Regions from separate parts of the Homo sapiens genome. Here region 2 is linked to region 1. The links come from fine-mapping of genetic effects on gene expression. Tissue or cell type: tibial nerve. Region 1 holds a variant in brackets; the other region holds the start of a gene. All regions are shown on one strand. Distances are from middle to middle.

Region 1 (11,329 bases):
AATTCTTGCAGAAAAATAGATGCTAGAAAAAAGGAACCAAATGGAAATTTTAGAACTAAAAAATACAATATATGAAATAAAAGTTCATTGGATTGGATCAATAGCAGAACGGAAATCACAGTACAAACAGTGATAGAACAACAGAAATTGCCTAATCCAAACAAGGAAAATTACCAAGGATTCAGACAAACATTATATTAAAGGGTCAACTCACCAAGAAGATACATAACAATCCTAAATGCATATGTCCCTAAAAACAGAGCTTCAAAATACATGAAGCCAAACTAATAAAATTGAAAGGAGAAATAGACAAATTGACAATCATAGTTGGAGACTTCAACACTCCTCTAGAGAATATAACCAGTTAGATAGAAAATCTAATTTTTAACAGTAGAGCTAGTTAGATGAAAAATCAACAAGGGATCTAAAAGGTCTGAATACCACCACTAACCAGCTTAACCTAATTGATGTTTATCGAACACACCACCCAAGAATAGCAGAATACACGTTCTCTTCATGTAAACATGGAACTGTCACCAAGGTAGATCATGTAGATCATATCTTGGACGATTAAACAAACTATAATACTTTTTTTGTGTGTGGTGGGGAGGCAGGATCTTACTCTGTCACCTTGGCTGGAGTGCAGCGGTGTGATCATAGCTCACTGCAGCCTCCACCTCCCAGACTCAAGCAATACTCCCACCTCAGCCTCCCGAGTAGCTGGGACTACAGGGATATGTCAACACGCCCAGCTAATTTTCTTGTAGAGACGGGGGGTCTCACTATGTTGCCCAGGCTGGTCTCGAACTCCTGGCCTCAAGAGATCCTCCTGCCTTAGCCTCCCAAAGTGCTGGGATTACAGGCATGAGCCACAGAGTCTGGCAACAAATTTTTAAAAACTGAAATTATAAATGTATGTCTTGCCGGGCGTGGTGGCTCACATCTATAATCCTGGCACTTTGGGAGGGGCTGAGGCAGGTGGATCACCTGAGGTCAGGAGTTTGAGACCAGCCCGGCCAACATAGTGAAACCCCATCCCTACTAAAAATACAAAAAATTAGCTGGGCGTGGTGGTGGGCACCTGTAATCCCAGCTTACTAGGGAGGCTGAGGCAAGAGAATCACTTGAACCCAGGAGGCGAAGTTTGCAGTGAGCCGAGATTGCGCTATTGCACTCCAGCCTGGGCAACAAGAGCAAAACTCTGTCTCAAAAAAAAAAAAAAAAAAGTCCTGTGACTATAATATAATTAAACTAAAAATCAGTCTCAGGGCTCAGTGGCTCACGTTTGTAATCCCAGAGCTTTTGGAGGCTGAGGCAGGTGGATCACTTGAGGTCAGGAGTTCAAGACCAGCCTGGGCAACATGGTGAAACCCCATCTCTACTAACAATACAAAAATTAGCTGGGCATGGTGTCCTGTGCCTATAATCCCAGCTACTTGAGAGGCTGAAGCACGAGAATTACTTGAACCTGGGAGATGGAGATTTCGGTGAGCTGAGATCACACACTGCACTTCAGCCTGGGCAACAGAGCGAGACTGTCTCAAAAAAAAAGAAAAGAAAAGAAATTTTAAAACAAGCAAAAAAATCAAAAACAGAAAGGCATCTGAAAAATCCTCAAATACTTGGGAATTAGGCAGTATGTGTCTAAATAATTCATGAGTCAAAGATGAAGTATCTTTTTGTTTGTTTGTTTGTTTGAGATGGAGTTTTGCTCTTGTTGCCTAGGCTGGAGTGCAATGGCGTGATCTCGGCTCACTGCAACCTCTGCCTCCCGGGTTCAAGCAATTCTCCTGCCTCAACCTCCCGAGTAGCTGGGATTACAGGCATGCACCACCATGCCTGGCTAATTTTGTATTTTTTAGTAGAGATGGGGTTTCTTCATATGGGTCAGGCTGGGCTTGAACTCTCGACCTCAGGTGATCCACCCCCTTCGGCCTCCCAAAGTGCTGAGATTACAGGCATGAGCCACCGCACCCAGCCCCAAAGTCTCAAGAGAAAATAAAAATAATTTAAACTAAATGAAAATGAAAATACAATACCATAAAATTCAAGCCCAAAGCAAAAGGGAGGAAAGAAATAATAAAGATAAGAGCAGAAATTAATAAAATTAAAAATGAGACTGGTAGAGAAAAATCAACAAAACCCAAATCTGGTTTTTTTTTTGAAAAGATTAACAAAACTGATGCATCTCTAACCAGAATGACAGAGAGAAAGAGAGAGAGAATACAAATCACCAATATAAAAAATGAGGCTGAGCACAGTGGCTCACACCTGTCATCCCAGCACTTTGGGAGGCCAAGGTGGGAGGATCGCTTGAGACCAGGCATTCAAGATCAGCCTGGGCAACATAGCAAGACCCCATCTCTACAAAAGATTAAAAAAATTAGCCAAGCATGGTGGCACATGCCTCTGGTCCCAGCTACCGGGGTTGGGTGAGGTGGGAGGATCGCTTGAGCCAGGGAGGTCAAGGCTGCAGTGAGCCTTGATTACACCACTGCACTCTAGCCTGGGTGACAGAGTGTGACCTTGTCTCGAAAAAAAAGAAAACAGAGATATCATTACAGTCTTACATCCTTTAAAAGGCTAATAAGGGAACACTAGAAACACTTCTACACACATAATTTCTACAACTTAGATGAGCTAATGGACCAATTCTTTGAAAAACACAAACTACCAAAACTCATGCAAGAAGAAATAGATAATCTGAACAGTCCTTGAGTGATTAAAGAAATTAATTTCCCAATTTATATCCTTCCAAAAAGGAAAACCTCAGGACCAGATAATTTCACTAAGTATTTAAGGAAAATATACATAAATTCTACACTACCTCTTCCAGAGAATAGAAGAGCCACTTCCCAACTCGTTTTATGGGGCCAGCAATAATACCCTGTTACCCAAACCAAACAAAAGCAATATAAGAAAACTACAAACCTGCTGGGCGCAGTGGCTCATGCCTGTAATCCCAGCACTTTGGGAGGCTGAGGTGGGCGGATCATGAGATCAGGAGATCGAGACCATCCTGGCTAACACAGTGAAACCCCGTCTCTACTAAAAATACAAAAAATTAGCCGGGCATGGTGGTGGGCGCCTGTAGTCCCAGCTACTCGGGAGGCTGAGGCAGGAGAATGGCGTGAACCCGGGAGGCGGAGCTTGCAATGAGCCGAGATCGCCCCACTGCACTCTAGCCTGGGCGACAGAGTGAGACTCAGTCTCAAAAAAAAAAAAAAAGAAAAAAGAAAACTACAAACCAATATCCCTCATGAACACAGATGCAATGAGCCTCTGCAAAATATTAGCAAATCGAATCCAGGAGATATATATGAAAAATATAACAAGACAAGCAGCCGAATGGGGTTTATTCAGCAAAGCTGGCCCAACATTTGAAAACTAATGGATGTAATCTAAACATGACCAAAGAAGAAAAACCTATCAAAAGATGCAGAGAAATCAAGTGGCAAAATTTAACATCCATTCATGATACCAAAAAAAAAAAACAAAAAAACTCTCAACAAAGTAGAAATATAAGGGAACTTCCTTATCCTTCCTTATCTTAGAGAAATGAAAACTTACATTCACACACACCCACACAAAACTGCACAAAAATGTCCACAGCAGCATTACACATAATCACCCAAACCTAGAAACATCCCCAGTGTCTCTCAACAAGTGAATGGATAAGCAAGTGTTCCCTAACCAAAAAGAACAAATGATTATGCTACGGGAAAGAAACCACTCCCAAAGGTTACAAACTGTATGATTCCATTTACGTGCAAAAGGCAAAACCATAGTGACAAAGCCAGATCAGTGGGTGCCAAGAGCGAGGAGGAGGGACTGAAGACAAAGGAGCAGCCGGAGAGAATTTGGGGGATGAGCCGTTCTGTCCCTGATGGCAGTGGGAGTCACAGGAGTCTATGTAAATAGTGACACTTCTTCCCCCACCCCCAAAAAGCGAATTTTACTGTATGTAAAGTAAAAACAATTTTTTAAAATTTTTCTTTAAAAATCAAGGGAACTGGCTGGGCACGGTAGCTCACAGCTGTAACCCCAGCACTTTGGGAGTGGGTCAAGGCAGGAGGATCGCTTGAGCTCAGGAGTTCCAGACCAGCCTGGGCAACATGGCAAAACCCTGTCTCTGCAAAAAATGAACAAAATTAGCCAGGTGTGGTGGTGCACGCCTGTAGTCCCAGCTACTTCGGAGGCTGAGGCGGGAGAATCACCTGAGCCCGGGAAGTCAAGGCTGCAGTGAACTGTGATTGTGCCACTGCACTCCAGCCTGAGTGACACAGTGAGACCCTGTCTCAAAAAAAAAAAAAAAAAATCAAGGGAACTGCACATACAAAGTTGGATATCTGACTTTAAATTTTTATTTTTATTTATTTTATTTTATTTTTTTGAGACGAAGTCTCACTCTTGTCTCCCAGGCTGGAATGCAATGGTGCGATCTCGGCTCACTGCAACCTCCGCCTCCCGGGTTCAAGCGATTTTGCTGCCTCAGCCTCCTGAGTAGCTGGGATTACAGGTGCCTGCCACCACACCCAGCTAATTTTTGTATTTTTAGTAGAGACGAGGTTTCACCATGTTGGCCAGGCTGGTCTCGAACTCCTGACCTCAGGTGATCCGCCCGCCTTGTCCTCCCAAAGTGCTGGGATTACAGGCATGAGCCACTACGCCTAGCCTATTTTTATTTTTGTTATAGACAGGGTCTCACTGTCACCCAGGCTGGAGTGCAGTGGCATGATCATAGCTCACAGCAGCCTCGACCTCCCAGGTTGAAGGGATCCTCCCAACTCAGCCTCCCAAGTAGCTGGGAGTACAGGCATACACCACTACACCTGGCTAATTTTTTGTAGAGATGGGGTCTCATTATGTTGCCCAGGTTGGTCTTGAACTCCTGGCCTCAAGTGATCCTCCTGCCTTGACTTCCCAAAGTGTTGGGATTACAGGCATAGCCCCCATGCCCAGCCCCTGGCTTTTCTTGAAAAATCAGATCTGGCAATACAGGTCCCATATTCCCCCACAGCAACAATGAGCGACAGCTGAATTCAAGCACACTCTTTAGAAAGGGAATGTATTCTGCTCCCCAGCTGTCTATGGGAACCCCCAAATCTCAAGTAGTTCCCCACCGCAGCCCCACCTAGGCTGCATTCCTTCCTGGCCCCCATGGGCATCGGAGTGGCAATTCCTGCTACCCCAGGCACTAACCTGGGCTTGGCTGGGCACCTGACATCGTCTATATCCACAAAAGGGGTTTCAGGGCTTGGCTTGGAGTAGGGTGAAGTTGAAACTCCCCAGCATTTTTATGCTGTTTTAGCAGCCACAATAGAAGACAGATGGGAAAAGAGGGGAAAGGACAGTGCCTGTGGGGTGAGAGGGGCCTACAAAGACAGTGGCAGGTCTGGGCACCTGGAGACTCCCTGCAGCAGGCCGGGAAGTGCCTTTTGAACCCACGTGGAGCCTAGATTTCCCTGGCAGTGCTTCTGGGGAAGGGACCCTCTGGAGGAGGTGAGGCAGGTGCTGGGGCCAGATCCTTGCTCAGGGGTGGCCACTCTGGAGGCCTTACAGTCAGGAGACACCTGTGAGGACACTGGGGTACCGGAGGCATCGTAAATCCCAGGACCAGTTGCAGGGTTTCCTGCTAGGAGCTGGCCAGGTGAGGGGGACAGTGGGGAAGGACGTGAAGGGCAGCAAGAGGGAACAGGAGAGGGAGAGGGGGCAATGCTGGCAAACGCAGGGGGTCTGGGGTGGATGGAAGGAATATGGGGAGGGGGCGTCATCAAGAGATGGGGCCAAAGAGAGAGGGAACAGGCCTGAAAGAGAAGGGCTTACGAGCCAGGCAAAGGGCCTGTATGTGCTTTATCCTGAATATGGGCGATAGGAAGCACAGGGGCAAGTGCTGACAGCGGCAGAGCTGGCTGGTGTCAGGCAGCCTTCGAAGCACTCAAGTGCATCACTCCCAGCAGCCCTGTGAAGTAGCCAAACCGCCAGTCATTCCCCTCTTACAGCAGTGGACCCTGTTGCTGTGCTGGCCTCACCGCACAGCAGGCAGGGTTGGAATCCAACTGCCCCTAGCTCTGTCCCTCTTCAGACTGGCCCCTTCTCCTGCTGCTGCAGGGGCTCTGGCCCTCTCCTGGGGCTTCAGGCGAGATGCTCCAGCTGCTTGTTTATCCTCACTCCCAGCAGTCCAGCTGCCTGACATCAGGGCACACAATAGGACCCTGTATTCTGGAGCCGCCACCCCCAGGCCGGCC[G/A]GTGGGACAAAGGGCACAGGCCGCCACTGGCCCTCTCCATTAATTCTGAGGCCAGGATGGGAAGGGAGCCAGGCAAGAACTTCAGCAACACCGGCCTGAGACAAGGGATGAGGGAGGCATTTCCAAAGTGGGTCCTTCCAGTTCCTGCACCCTGAGCCCAGGCCAAAACATCCCACTGTCTTGCTCCCACTCCCTAAGCCCGCTCCCCTCCATGTGAAGGGCTGTCCCACGGAATCAGTCAGACTTACCCTGGGTAGGCCACTGGTAGAGGGGGTATGTGGTTGTGGAAAGCATCCTGGAGGAGTCAGGAGCCCCGGGCCCAGGACCAGCTCCGCAATTAGTGGCGCCCAGGGCAAAGGGGAACATTACCACGAATTTCAAGAAGGCAACCCCAGAGCACTAATCCCTGAGTGACTGCACAGGTCGCATGCCGAGAGAGCGGGCTCTGCCTGGGCTTCGATAAGGTACCACTGCGTGACCTCGGGCAAGCCCTGTTGCCTCTCTGGGCCTCAGTTTCTGTATCTATAATGCACTTCCGACCAGCTCACAGGACCGCTGTGACGATCAGATCAGACTATGAGTCAAGGACATCAGAGGCTGCAGAGTGCCATGGATGTGCCAGGTGCAAAGATGCATAAAGGGGGCCTGAGGGTGAGCCTTCCCCCGGGAAGGGACAGGCAGAGGGGCCACCAGCCAGCTGGGAGGCTGCGGAGACCGTCCGCAGGGGGGCTGAGGTGAGAAAGTAGGGTGGTCCCTGAGACCCTCTGAGAATCTCAGGGATGCTGTGCTTCCTGGGCCCTCCATCCAGTCCCAGCTCCACCACAGACTGCTTTACTGAGTGGTCTCGCTGAGCTCCTTCCCCTCTCTCGGCCTCAGTTTCCCCATCTGGACAATGACAGCACTGGATAACATTAATATTGAATGTCTCTTCCAGCTCTGAAGTCTCTATGATCGTAATGCTTTCAGGCATGTTTGGGGTGGGCATGGGGATTGGGGGGAGGAAGAGAAGAAAACCAGAGTGGAGAAGCAGACGGGGTCAGAGGACTGGGAGAAAAATGCCTCCATTTACTGGAGCTTCACCACGGAACAAGTAAATGGCTTGGGGACCTTGGAGTGGGTGTGGCCCTGGGGAATTACTCAACCTCTCTTCCGAGCCTTTTACTTCCCCTCTTCTATAAAGTCAAGAAATAATGACAAGAACGGAGGCAGATTCGTCAGTCACCACTATCCTGCCCCTCCCCTCCTCTTTGTCCACGTAGAGCGCCCCCTGGGCCTGAGGTGCCCACCTCCTGTCTGACCAGGTGCCTGGGGCCACTCAACCTGGAGCATGAGTTCTGACTGGACCAAGCCAGTTCCGGGGGGCTCTTCCCCCTTGCCAGTGATTGGTTCAGGCAAAGGCATGTTCTACATCTCTGGCCAATAAGCCATGAGAAGACATCTGCAGGGGGCTCTGGGAGAGGCTGTCTCTGGAGGGTGGGGCCCATGAACAGGAAGCTGTCCCCTCCCTGCTTCCCCTGCTGGAGAAGGGATGCCCTCTTGGGTCAACGCTGGGAAGCTCAATGGAAGGGGATTGGGTCCTAGCTGGTGCCTCTGAGCCCCTGAGGAACCAGCCCTGGAGCTGCCCTACCTTGGACCCTTGTGTTATAAGGAAGAATACACTTGCCTCAGCATGTAAGTTATTTTGCATTGCTTCCTGGTTCTCACAGCTGGAGGGCCCCTGCCCAATGAAGGACCCCGCCTCAGGGACCCACTGGGATAAAAGGTGGTGATGGGAGGGGAGGTGGAGAGGGCCTGTGCGGCTTTGGAGTGCCTCTGGCCAGGGTGGCTAGACATCCAGAGGGCTGGCCAGCACCATGGCCCAGTGACATGGTACCCAGGCCACCGCCTCCTGGGAAGCGCTGTCCCAGCCGCCACAGCTGGAGACATCTTCCTTTATGGGACCGCCAACACCTCCATCCATCTGAGTGTCATCAGGTGGCCCCTCATTCACAGCCTGAGTCTGGGCTGACAGAATCCCTCCGGCCACCCACAAGGGCTTTGTTTGGGGTCTGAATAGGAGCGAAAGTGACAGAAGCCTGGGTGGTCTCTGAAGTGGACTGGCCTCTGCAGGCATCCGCCCATCTGTCCGTTCCTTTTGCAAATGTTTCCACAGCTCTTCAGCCAGACTGACTGGCCTGTGGGGAGACAGAGAGGCTCCCAGGAAGCTCCCAGGGAAGGAACAGATGTCCTGGAGTTATTTTTGAGTGAAATAAAAATAGCCTCGGGAATAGCATAAAAGTGTGTAGGTGACTGTTAATACTGCCACACGCCCAGAGGCAGGGTAGCGTGGCTCCCAGCCTCTGGAGGCAGACATTGCTGAGCTGGAATCCCACCTCCTCCATTTCCCAGCTGTGTGACCAGTGGTGGATGACTCAACCTCCCTGAGCAACATCATTGCCTCATCATGTGTTAGGACTGAGAGGGGATGGCATATCAAGACAGCCTGGCAGCTGACACAGAGCAGGCTCGGGATAAATGAGGCTTTCATAGGCAGAGCATGCCTGGACGCTGGTCAGGAAGCTGCGGACACCCGTGAACCTCATGAGCTGGGACAGCCAGTCGTTGCACCTCTTCTTCCAGCAATTTTTAACTGGCTGAATTTAAAATATGAACTGGATCATTTTTAAACTTCGGGGAAAAAAACTCAATGAAACTCTTATGACTCTTTTGAAAAACTGCTGATAGCACTGTAGGGGAAGATAAGACAGAATCCATCACAATGTAACCCCCTCGAAGGTGTTACCCCAAATCCTTGCAGTTTTGGGGCCCAGAGGAGACAGACAGCCCAGAGGGCTTGGGAGATGTGGAAGGGCCTTGGAGGAGGAGGGGGTTATGCTGGACTGCAGGTGGAAGAACTGACACAGCAGGTGTGGGGAATGGGAATTCAAGAAGCGGGGCGTTGGTGTGAGCAAAAGGGAGGGAGGAGGGAGAGGGTAGCCAAGGCCAGGCCGTAGAGGTGCTCGAAGGGTCTGAGGAACCACCAGCTGTTCTCAGTGGCTGGAGGGCAGGGGGAGGCTAAATATGGGGGCGGGGGAAGAGGGAAGACACTCTCTTCTCGGGGGGCCTATGGAAGGACAGCTCCCTCCGTGCCCTCCGTGTGAGGCCCTCTGTTGACATCTCTGGCTCTCAGCATAGTTTGAAAGGCGCTGCTCGCTGTGGGCTTTGGTTGGCTTTAGACCCATTATTTAAGGTTACATGGGAATGTCTGCTCATCAAAGGGGGGTGCTGGCCTGCAGGAGTTGGGCCACTCTGAGCTGTGGTCCCTGGACCCTGCCTCCTCTAACCCATCTATCCCGCCCCATCCGAAACATGCCGAGCTCCCCAGCTCTGACACTTCAACTAGACTCAAACTGAAAAGCTCCCGCCAGTCCTCCCTCCATTCCCCAGAAAATGAGTTAACCAGGACACCTCATGGCCTTTCAGTAAATTGAGGTTTAGCTACAGAAACAAAGCAAAATACAGTGGCTCCAGGCAGAAATTCCACTGTTGCTGTCAGTACAACACAAGATGGCAAGTGAGAAGGGCGACTTGTTCTGGGAATCCCATAATGGAATTTCAAACGTACCATGAGGCCCTGGCAGACCCCGACCTCTCTGAGCCTCAGTTTTTTTGCCTGTGAAATGGGGCAGGTACTGCTCCTCACCTCACTGCCCACTGGTCAATCTCTCCACCACGGAAACCCCACTTGGATCCCAGGGGAGGTGCAGCCTGTAGCCCTGGCAGAGGACCTGAAACCTATCTGCGCCTGGTGTCTGCCTGCTCCCTGGGACTCACTGGTGTTCACGTACATTTCCTGGGCCAGGTCTAGCCAGGGGCTGGGGACAAGAGGAGCTCCCAGGCTCTGTGGGCAGCAGAGATTAAGGTGGCCCCGCCCCTTCCTATCCGTGGTCCCTGTGATGGGACAGGGCAGGATGGGGATTAAGGTTCCAGTTTCACTGATGAAGCAAGTGGGACCCAGAGAGGTTGAGTCCTTCACCCAAGATCACCAGGATGGCATTTCTTAGAGAGTGTCAATGTGTTACATGTAGAAAGGTTTCTGAAATCCGTAAGTTTGAGACAGGTTAGGCTGGAGTCAGCATTTTTACCCGGAGGCTTTCCTGGACTAAAGTGAAGGGGGAGCGGGCTCCATTTCCACATTGCTTGACCAACTGCTGGATCAGAATACCCTTTCCTCCCTCTGTTTGCTGGACACGGGTGGGACCCCTGCTCTGGGGATCTAGAGCTTTTCTCCCTTGCACAGGACATTAAATGGGCCATTTCCATGGCAAAACCGGCATCTGTGTGAGAGGAGGGTGGTGGTGTGCGCAGTCACCCCTAGAGGATGAACTGTCTAGGTTCACTTGCTCCACACCCCTGCCTGCAGCTCGTGGGTTCAGCTGCCAGCACTGATGCACTCACTTGGGGAGGAGAAATTCTGGTGGGTCCTCCCAGGACCAAGCTGCTCCCCAGGTGATTGAACTCAGCATCCCCAAACAGAACAAGTGAACCTCACACGGCCCCTCATGAGATGCTCGGTCCTACCCAGCCTGGCTGCGGCCCTCCCAGAGCCCCGACTGAGGCAAGGACGATGGCCAGAGGGGCTGTCTATGTCTCAGGCTTTCTAGCCCTCGCTTCCTCTCTGCTGCAACTGCACCTTCTCCTCGGAAGGACGCCCTGCAGTCTGAGTAGCTGTCCTCATGGGAGGCACCCCCAGGCAGCTCAGCAAATTCCTCAGGGCCCGTATGGCAGGGCCAAGGGCCACAGGGGAGGTCTTGAGTCTACTCATTTTGTAGACGCTCTTTGCAGAGGCAAAGTTCTTTTCCAGCAAGCACGGCAGGAGGCAAGAGGCCTCATCCATGATTGAGGCCCTTATTTATAATTTAAACCTCTTTCCCAAAAGAAAGTAGCTCAGAGGCCTGGGGTGGAGGACCAGTGTAACAGAGTCCTGGGTATCAGAAAGGACTCAGGCGTGTGGCACCTACACACCCTTCCCCTGGTTTATCCTCATGCGAGCCCTTGGAGGGAAGTTACTGGCCTCACTTAATAAACCAGAAAACCAAAGC
Region 2 (8,388 bases), 25 kb after region 1:
AAGAGGTTAGGGAGACAATGCAATATATCAGAAGGCAACACAGGGTCAGGATGTTGAGCCATCATGTTACATACTTATCAGAGTCCTGCTCCCTGGCATTGTAGACTTTCAGGATCAGGGCAGTGGTGTGCCCCCATCCCTCAAAAATCTGCATTTCTTTCTTTTCTTTTCTTTTCTTTTCTTTTTTTTTTTTTTGTGGCAGGGTCTCACTCTGTCACCCAGGCTAGAGTGCAGCGATGTAATCTCAGCTCACTGCAACCTCCGCCTCCCAGGTTGAAGCGATTCTCCTGCCTCAGTCTCCCAACTAGCTGGGATTACAGGTGCACGCCACTACACCGGGCTAATTTTTGTATTTTTTGTAGAGATGGGGGGTCTCACCATGTTACCCAGGCTGGTGTGGAACTCCTGAGCTCCAGTGATCCTCCCACCTCAGCCTCCCAAAGTGTTAGGATTACCGGCATGAGCCACCACGCCCGGCCCATTGTCTCCTCTTTTCTGCTGTGATACCTAGGTCAACAAAGTAGGGAACTATCAGGGACTAACCTAATCCATAAATAACATTATTAAGTAACATTCATACTTGATCCTGACTTCCTTAGTTTTTACCTAATGTCCTCTTCTTGATTCTAGGGTCCCATCCAGGACACCACACTGCATTTAGTCAGCTGCCTCCTTAGTCTCCACTTGGCTCTGACAGTGTCTCAAAATTTCCTTGTTTTGGATGACCTTGACAATTTTGAGAGGTCCTAATCAGGCATTTTGTAGAATGCCTCTCGGATGGGATTTGTCTGGCATTTTTCTCAGGACTAGACTGGGATTACTGGTTTGGGAGGAAGACCACAGAGGAAAAGTTCTATTCTCACCACATCACACCAAGGGTGTATGCCATCATCACAATCTGTCACTATCGATGTTGTCCTTGATCACCTTCTGAGACAGTGTTTGTTGGGTTTCTCCACTATACAGTTGCTGTTCCCCCCACTTTCCAAACTCTACCCTTTATAAGGAAGCCACTACGCACATCTCATGCTTACACGGTGGGACGTTATGCTTCACTTCCTCAATGGGGCAATTATCAACATACGTTATTCAGATTTCTTCTATACGAGAGATTTTCCTATTTATTTATTATCATCTGTTCAATAATTTATACATATATATATTTCATTATGGCCTCATGGATATTTATTTCATACTTTATGACCTAGTATATTTTGGTTTTTGCAAAGCATTTGATCCTGGTATCCCTGGTATTCTGGGGGTAGGTGGTAAACTGTGGACAATCAGCTCTAAGTTCACTGAACTACATATCTAATGAATGATCATTATCCATCCCAGAGCACAAGTGGCTGGGAAATCAATGTCACTGCCTGATTTTAAAACAAATAAAATAGAAACAGTCAGAGTACACTGCATTTCGTAAGGGAGCCCCCCCCCCCCGCCCCCCGCCACCCCACCGCTGGAAAACAACACTCCGATTTTTTAATGCATCAGGGGATAAGATGGGTAGTGAGTAGAGATGCAAAATATATTTCCACGGGTCTCGGTCAATACAGCATAAGCCGAAAACCACCCCTACAAGTGCCTCGGGGCCCTGTCCATGGTCCTGCCCTGCAATGTTTAACCAGCCTTGTGGATTCAGACACACCAAGCACTGCTTCTCCAGCCCGCAGGCAGCAGCACAGCTGAGAGTGATAGAGGTAGGATGCTAGATTCTCTTTCTTGACAGATACAATGTGATGAAATGAACAAGACGAAATTAAATGGGAATAAGGGCCAAGAAACAGGCTTAGATTCCAGAAATTACTGACAGACAACAGGCCCGAATGCTTCCACAAGCCAGGATTGTTAAAAGAAAAAAGAAAAGAAAAGAAAAGAAAAAGGAATTGTGTACAGTAAGAGAGACTAAAAGGTGACAACAACCACATACACTGCACAGTCCTGGAGAGGAAACAGCAAAAATGGACATTTTGGGGTCAAATAGGGAAATCTGAAAAAGGTCTGCATATTAAACCAGATGAAAATTTATTGAAGCAGAAAAGTCATGATCATTTACCGGCAAAAAAAATCAGGTTACAAAACAGTATGCACAGTATGATCTCATTTTCTGGAGAAAATTGACATATAAGCATGGAAACAGCTCTGGAAAGGTCTGACAGAAGTGTCATTGAGGCGCTGCCTGAGAGATAGGACACAATACTTTTTATTTTGCTTGTCCCTATTTCCAGTTTTCTGCAATGCATATCCACCGCTTCTGTAGTAATCTCAGAGTATGCTTTTAAAAGAAAAAAATCACTGACCCTCCCCGAAGGGTGGAGAATCCCTGGCTTGGCAGAGGTTTCTAAAACAGATCCCTGGAGGTTTCGGTGGCCAGAAACTTAATATAAGCAGAGTGCAGTGCCCCATTCAGAGGCAGCCCCACCCTAAGCTGTGTGCATATGTGTGAGGTCTTGGGGCTAATATAGTCCTGGTGGGGGCGGCGGGGGGCGGTCTGCTTGTCCAGCCCTTTCATGTTATTGCTAGGAAAACTGAATCACAGAATTAGTCGATGGCAGCTCCAAGGCCAGAAGCCAGAGGTCTGGCTACTGGGTCACATGGAAATGGCCTAGGGCTTCAGGAACTGGGGTATTTGGCCTGGAGAAGGGAAAATGGGAGTATGGAGCTGGGAAGGAGAGAAGGGGCAGGAGTGCTATTTTCAAATATTTAAAGGCTCCCCCAAAGAAGAGAGACCTATGTGAGTCCCCGTGCAGAACGGTGATGACTAAGTGACAAGCAGGTCTGTCTCTAGAGTGTATGAGGGAGAAGGTTCTAATGGCAGGAACTGTCCAGCTGGGGGAGAAGTGGGTGAGGCTTGCTGGGCACGTGGCTGAGGCCGGTGGCCCCTGCCAGAGGTTGTTGGGAGGCCCTTCCCACTACTGAGGCTCTGAGTTCGGGGACTCCAGGTTTCAGCCAGAGCTGGTAGCTTCTTTACCCGACCTGCAGTCTGTGTTCTGAGAGGAAGGAGCGCGACTATCCCCATGCCAGGAGTCTGCTCAGCCTGCCCCAGATGGGAGCCACTGGAAAAACGGAAGGGCTTGGCTGGCCTTTGGGGAAGAAGGGTCATGGTGGCAGCAGGCAGTGTCCCTCAGCAAAGCCCCGCAGAGGGCAGTCTGGGCTCTCACAGGCACTGCAGTGGTCTTTCCTGTGGTGGGTACCTGAGTTCTCAAGCCCTGAAGCTGCCTCACTCTCTTCTGCCCACAGCTCTCAGCGACTCACAAGTCCCGGCCCATGCCCAGGTGCGGGTGGAGAGATGATTCTCAATCGCCTCCCACTCTCTGGTGACGCAGAGGCACGGGCCCAACCTGGCCATCACCCAGCTTCTCCCATGTTCTGAAATGCCTGGTCCGACCTGTTCTGGGAACACAATGCCAGCCAGTGCCCATTTGAGGCCCATGGCCCCAGGCCCCCCATGCAGGGCCTGAGGCCTTAGATGGCCTTGGAAACCCACTTCTCAGGGCTTTTGGCTCCAGGGGAAACCCCTGACCATTTCAGCCAGGTGGGTGTCTTGTCCTCCCCTTGAGACACAGTCCCCAGTCCCCATGCCGGTGGCACCAGAGGACACTGGTGTAGTGTGCGTTTAGTGATATGACTCCGTCCACCCTACTGGCGGCACCGACCCTCCGCTTCCAGCCCTGTTAACAATCTACGTAAGTCCTGCTTTCCCCAAATAGATGCGGCCCCGCCACATGAAAGCCCTCTGCTCAGCCACCACTCCCCGAGCCTGGCTTTGCCTGGCCTGCTGCAACCAACACAGCCAGCTGCCAGCCTGGCTGCCCAGCAGAGCCTGAATGAGAGGTCACCCGACACTGGCCCGGGAGTACACGGTGGCCCCAGCAGACACCTCCTTCCGTGTCTGGGCAGGGTGTGTGCAGCCGAGGAGCCAAGGCTGCAGAGCACCCCTACCGGTCCCTTTCACCCCCTGGCCCGGCCCAGCAGGACGTACACAGACCCTTGCATCTTGGTCTCCGCAGCGCCGGGTGGGGTGGGGAGCCTAGGGCCGGATTCTGGCAGCTCTCTCCCCCAGACAAGGGTGGATGTGCAGACCGCTCAGAAGGACCTGCATGGCCGAGGAAGGAAGGTGGGCGCAGAAGCCACCCTAGGCGTGACGCGTGACGCTCGGGGCACGGGCGCCGGGGGGCGGAAAGCGAGGGCCCGGCTGGGCCAGGGATACCCGGGGGGGGCCGAGGTCCTGGGCTCCGGCGGAGGGAGGGGATTGGGAGGGAGGCCACCGCCTCGGGCCACGCGGGTGACCCGGCGGGGGAGCTGGGGGAGGGGCGGCGGGGCTGGGCTGGGGTCCCCGGGCCGGGACTGGGGTCGGGCCAGCTTACCTCCTCGCCCTGGCCGAAGCGCAGTCCGAGCGCCGCGACGCGCTCCACGCGCAGGAAGCCGTCGGGGTCGCGGCCGCACACCTCGAACACCTCGCGCAGGCGGCGCACGGAGCGCAGCAGAGCCGCGGGGGCGCCCGACCAGCCCGCGCCGCCCGCCATCCGGGCCGGCCCGCAGCTCAGCCCGGACCCCTCGCCCGCCGCGCCCGCCGCCTGCCCGCCGCCGCCATCGCCGCGCGCCCTCCGGGGCCGCCCGTCTGGGTCTGCGCCGCGCAGCCTCCGCCCGGTGGCGGCCGCGGCCGATCCGTGTCAGCAGCGGCGCCGCAGCCCCAGCCGCTCCGGAGGGGAAGGGAGGGGAGGGGAGGGAAGGAGAAGAGTGGGGAGGGGAAGGAGGAGGGGCAATAGGGGGCGGGGAGGGGAGGGGCGGGGGCCGCGGCGAAAATGGGAGGGAGAGGGGGAGGCGGCGGGGGCGGCGGCGGCGGGGACGCTGCAGACAAAAGGAGCCCGCGTCCTCCCGAGTGGGGCGGCCCACGCGGGGCCGGCAGGCGCAGCGAGCTGCCAACGGCCGCGTCCTCCGCGACCTCAGTTTCCCTCCGCGTCCCCAGTTTCCCTCCGCGTCCCCGAGCCCACCCCTTCCTCTGGACACCCGGAGCCACCCAAAGGCCCTGCCCTGCCGGAGGATTCCGCGGGGTCGCGCCCCTTTCCGCTATCCGTGCCCGCTGCCGCGCCTGGCGTCTCCCGAGCGCTCAGGATGTCCTGGGGGCCTCCTGCATTGGCGCGTTCCGTGACTGCATTCATCCCGGAGGAAGCTGAGGCCCAGAGAGGTCGGACTCACTCTAGGCCACACAGCTGGCAAGAGGCAGGGCCGGGATTCGCTGCCATCTCTGGAGGGCTCTGGACTCCGTTCTTCACCTCCGCCCTGCGGTCTCCCGGCGCTCTCCTGCAAGACAGCACTTGTGGGGCCATCGGGCGGGGGAGGGCACAGAGAGGAGGAGCAGGCAACTGAACCCCAGCCTGGACCCGGGACCCTGCGACGGGGAGATGAGGAGAAAACCAGGATGAGGCCGGAGGGAGGAAAAGCGAGGCGCTTCCAGAGGCCTGCCTGTTCAGGGCCCAAGGCTGCTCCACGCCTGGAAGAGGCTTCCTCCCTTTCGCCGGGTTCCCACCATCACACCTCCCTGGCAGCCCGCATGCCCCAAGCTCAGAGAATCCAGGACAGAATCTCTGTCCCGCTGGCCGCAGGCTCTAGGTCAGGACCCTGGCCTCCTCCCATTAGTGCTCAGCGGAGCCTCCACCCCAGCTTGTGCTAACTTCCCAGCCCAGCCTCGGGGCCCTGCAGGACCCGGCCGGGCTCTTCTCTCCACCTTCTTGCTCGGCACATCAGGTCTTTGTGGCAACGACTGGCCCCAACCCAAAAAAAGGCCTTGGCTGAGTCTACTCCCACCTATGCTGTCATGCTCAGCACAGAGGTTTCCTCCTCCGGGAAGGCTTCTCTGATGGCACGCCATCTTATCTTCTATTCTGAGTTCTAAGCCCTTCTTCCAGGTGCCCAGTTAATTCTTAATTCTCTAGTGGGATGCCCATTTCCCCTACCATGCTGGGAAGCCCTCCAGGGCAAGATATGTCTTAATTACCTTCAAGTCCCTGATCTCCAGGCAAGAGTGGGCCCAGAGGAAGCCCCACCCAGAGGGGATGGGCCCGCCCATTATGTGAGGAGCCGGGAGCAACGTAGTGGCGCAGACAGGGAGTACGGGGTGAACTGCATGGCCTCCCCTAGCTGGGCCTCGGTTTGTACCTCTGTGGTCTTCCTGCTCAACCCTGAATATATCCTGCGCAGGGACTGCCATTTGCCTTCTGACAGTGGGCGGGGACCTCTTCTTTCCAGCCCCGGCTCCTGGGATGAACCTGGCTTTTAGCTACTCTCCTTTGACCCTTCAGTTCGTCTGAGAGCCACGAAAGGCAACACCTCTTGGGAAGAGAGACCTGTGGTTCTGAGGATTGAGGAGTCCGAAATGTGAGAAAGCGGGAAAGGGGAGGCCGTGGGAGTGGAGTAGGGGTATTCGGCTGAGTAGGAGCGTCTCTGCTAGCTGGATGCCGCTCAGCAGGATACTAGCATATTTTAGCCGGTTTCCTCGCCTGTACCGTGAGGATAATAGTACCTTCCTTTTAGGGCAACTGAAGATGAGAGCGAATCTAAGCAATGCTGCTTTCCCCCGACCTACCCTGCAAAATGGAGGTGGAAGTGGAGAATAAGGACAAGCAGCTGGCTGGGAGAGACTGGCTGCTGGAGATCCAGCCAGCCCCCTGGCAAGGAGGTAGGGAGTGGAAGCTGGGGGCTGCTGCCTGCCCCTGGGACCCCGATATTAGTTCGTCCAAGGTCAGCTCGTGCCATTTTCTCTCACCCAAGGGGCTCAGCACAGAAAGGAGATGGCCAGGAGCTGGGGCTGCCCCCTGGTGGGGGCTGCAGAAATGGCTCTCCGCGCTCAGCCTGGCATTGAATGCCCCCTAACTGGGGACAGGGGAGCTGGAAGACTCACCCACTTCAGCTGGCAGAGGCGGGGACCTCAGACCTGAGCATGAACAAATCCCAAGTGAACCAAGACAGAATCCCGCAACCAGATTAGCCAGTTCTTGTCAAAGACAGGATCATCACAAATTCAAAAATCCCCCAGGAGAGCTTTCCCTGACCGGACTCTCCTTGCCCAGGTCTCTGCAGTTTTGTCTCTGGTGGGCGATGGTTTGAAGGACACCTGCCTCCCCCACCAGTGGCACTGGGTCTCTTGCTCACCGCTGTGCTGCTGGGGCCAGCAAAGCACGTCACAGGCATTCTTTCTGGGGTTGTCACGTTTTTGTTGAGCACCTACGTTGTGTTGGGTATGCTAGGGAGACAGTGAAAGGGGTGCAGCCACTTGCTGAACTTGATGGGGGCAGTCATGGCCCAGTGTGATCTACACTGAGGTGCCAGGCTCTAGGAGCCCAAGAGGGCCTGCAGAAATGGCTGAGTGCCTACCCAAAGGTCCCTCAGAGATGGTGCAATTTATGGAGTCCTTGGGTCCTTGGAAGTGGACCTGGGACCACTAGGGCTCCCAAAACCCTGATCCAAGAGCTCAGAGTGCAGCCCCGAGCAGAAGCAGCAAGAGAATACCCATGTCAGGGCCGGCTGCAGGGTGAAGGGGGTTGCTCCAGGAAAGCAAGAGGTCCCCATGGATAGGGCGGGAAGGCGCGGAGCCTCCTTTCTGTCCTCCGCTTCCTCCAGGTGACCTCTGATTCTCCAGGGGATTTCCAACAGCTGCAGCAGCCTGGGCAGGCTGGAAATATACTGGGAAATATACATGGAAGGGACAGTTGGGACTCCGGCCCCTTCTCTAGGAAGAAACAAGTTTGATCAGGTCCCTCCCCTGCTGAAAACTCAATGGCCACCATTGCCTGAGCTGGCATTGTGCAGTGTCTTCATACTCTCCTGCCTCTCCTTAACCCTAGTCTGGGAGCATCCAGGCTCCCTCCTGCCTCCCTTTGCTTAGTGGGTGGGAGGTCTCAATCCTACCCCCACCCAATTCCACTTTCTCTAATTCCTGTCCTTGTGTTGTGGAAGTGGCACTTCCTACCGGAAGCCTTTCATGACCACCCCACTCCTTGCCCACCTTGACCACCTCTCCCATGTGCTCCTGCAGAGAAGTGAAAAGTACAGACTGCAGCCCACTTACAGGTATGGATAAGGCTGTGGTGAGAGTCAGTAAGTTAATACATACATTGTAAGTGTCAGAACAGTGCTGCTGGTTAGTGACAGCTATTGTCCTTGTGACTATCCTTACCATCTTACTCCTATTGTCTATCACCGGATTATCTGGGAAACTGTATGAAAGGTCACAGGAGTGACCATGAGGTCCCTGGGAGCAGGGACTGTGTCTATTTCTCTCCTGATTTCTGTAGCTCCTAAATAATGCCCATACACACATAGTTAGGGTCTGTGTAGGAATAAATTAAGGAATGGACAAATATGGCATGGTAGGCTGAAAAATGCCCC

Direction of the effects. Alleles are on the strand shown, and positions count from the first base shown. SD is a standard deviation of normalised expression in the study named.
With allele A in place of G in region 1, the expression in tibial nerve of the gene that starts at base 4,704 in region 2 is higher (large effect, 0.83 SD a copy in GTEx).

Evidence for each region. PIP is the estimated chance that this variant, and not a neighbour inherited with it, causes the effect.
Region 2: it holds the start of RAB11FIP4, and the variant in region 1 is fine-mapped to the expression of RAB11FIP4 in tibial nerve (GTEx, PIP above 0.99). The same link has a PIP of 0.9 or more in esophagus muscle.

Annotation. Positions count from the first base shown.
Region 1 is chr17:31,411,453-31,422,781 of GRCh38, reverse strand. All of the region lies in intron 1 of RAB11FIP4 (RAB11 family interacting protein 4), which reads right to left. LOC124903977 (a long non-coding RNA gene) reads left to right here and starts at 7,682. Exons shown (of 2, transcript XR_007065706.1): 1 at 7,682-7,919; 2 at 8,401-8,525. RefSeq lists enhancers at 5,314-6,153, 6,154-6,994, 7,470-8,433, 10,364-11,329. The variant G/A (reference allele first, on the strand shown) is at 6,249.
Region 2 is chr17:31,387,991-31,396,378 of GRCh38, reverse strand. It overlaps RAB11FIP4 (RAB11 family interacting protein 4), which reads right to left and starts at 4,704. Exons shown (of 15, transcript NM_032932.6): 1 at 4,368-4,704. The coding sequence starts at 4,526. RefSeq lists an enhancer at 4,900-5,489.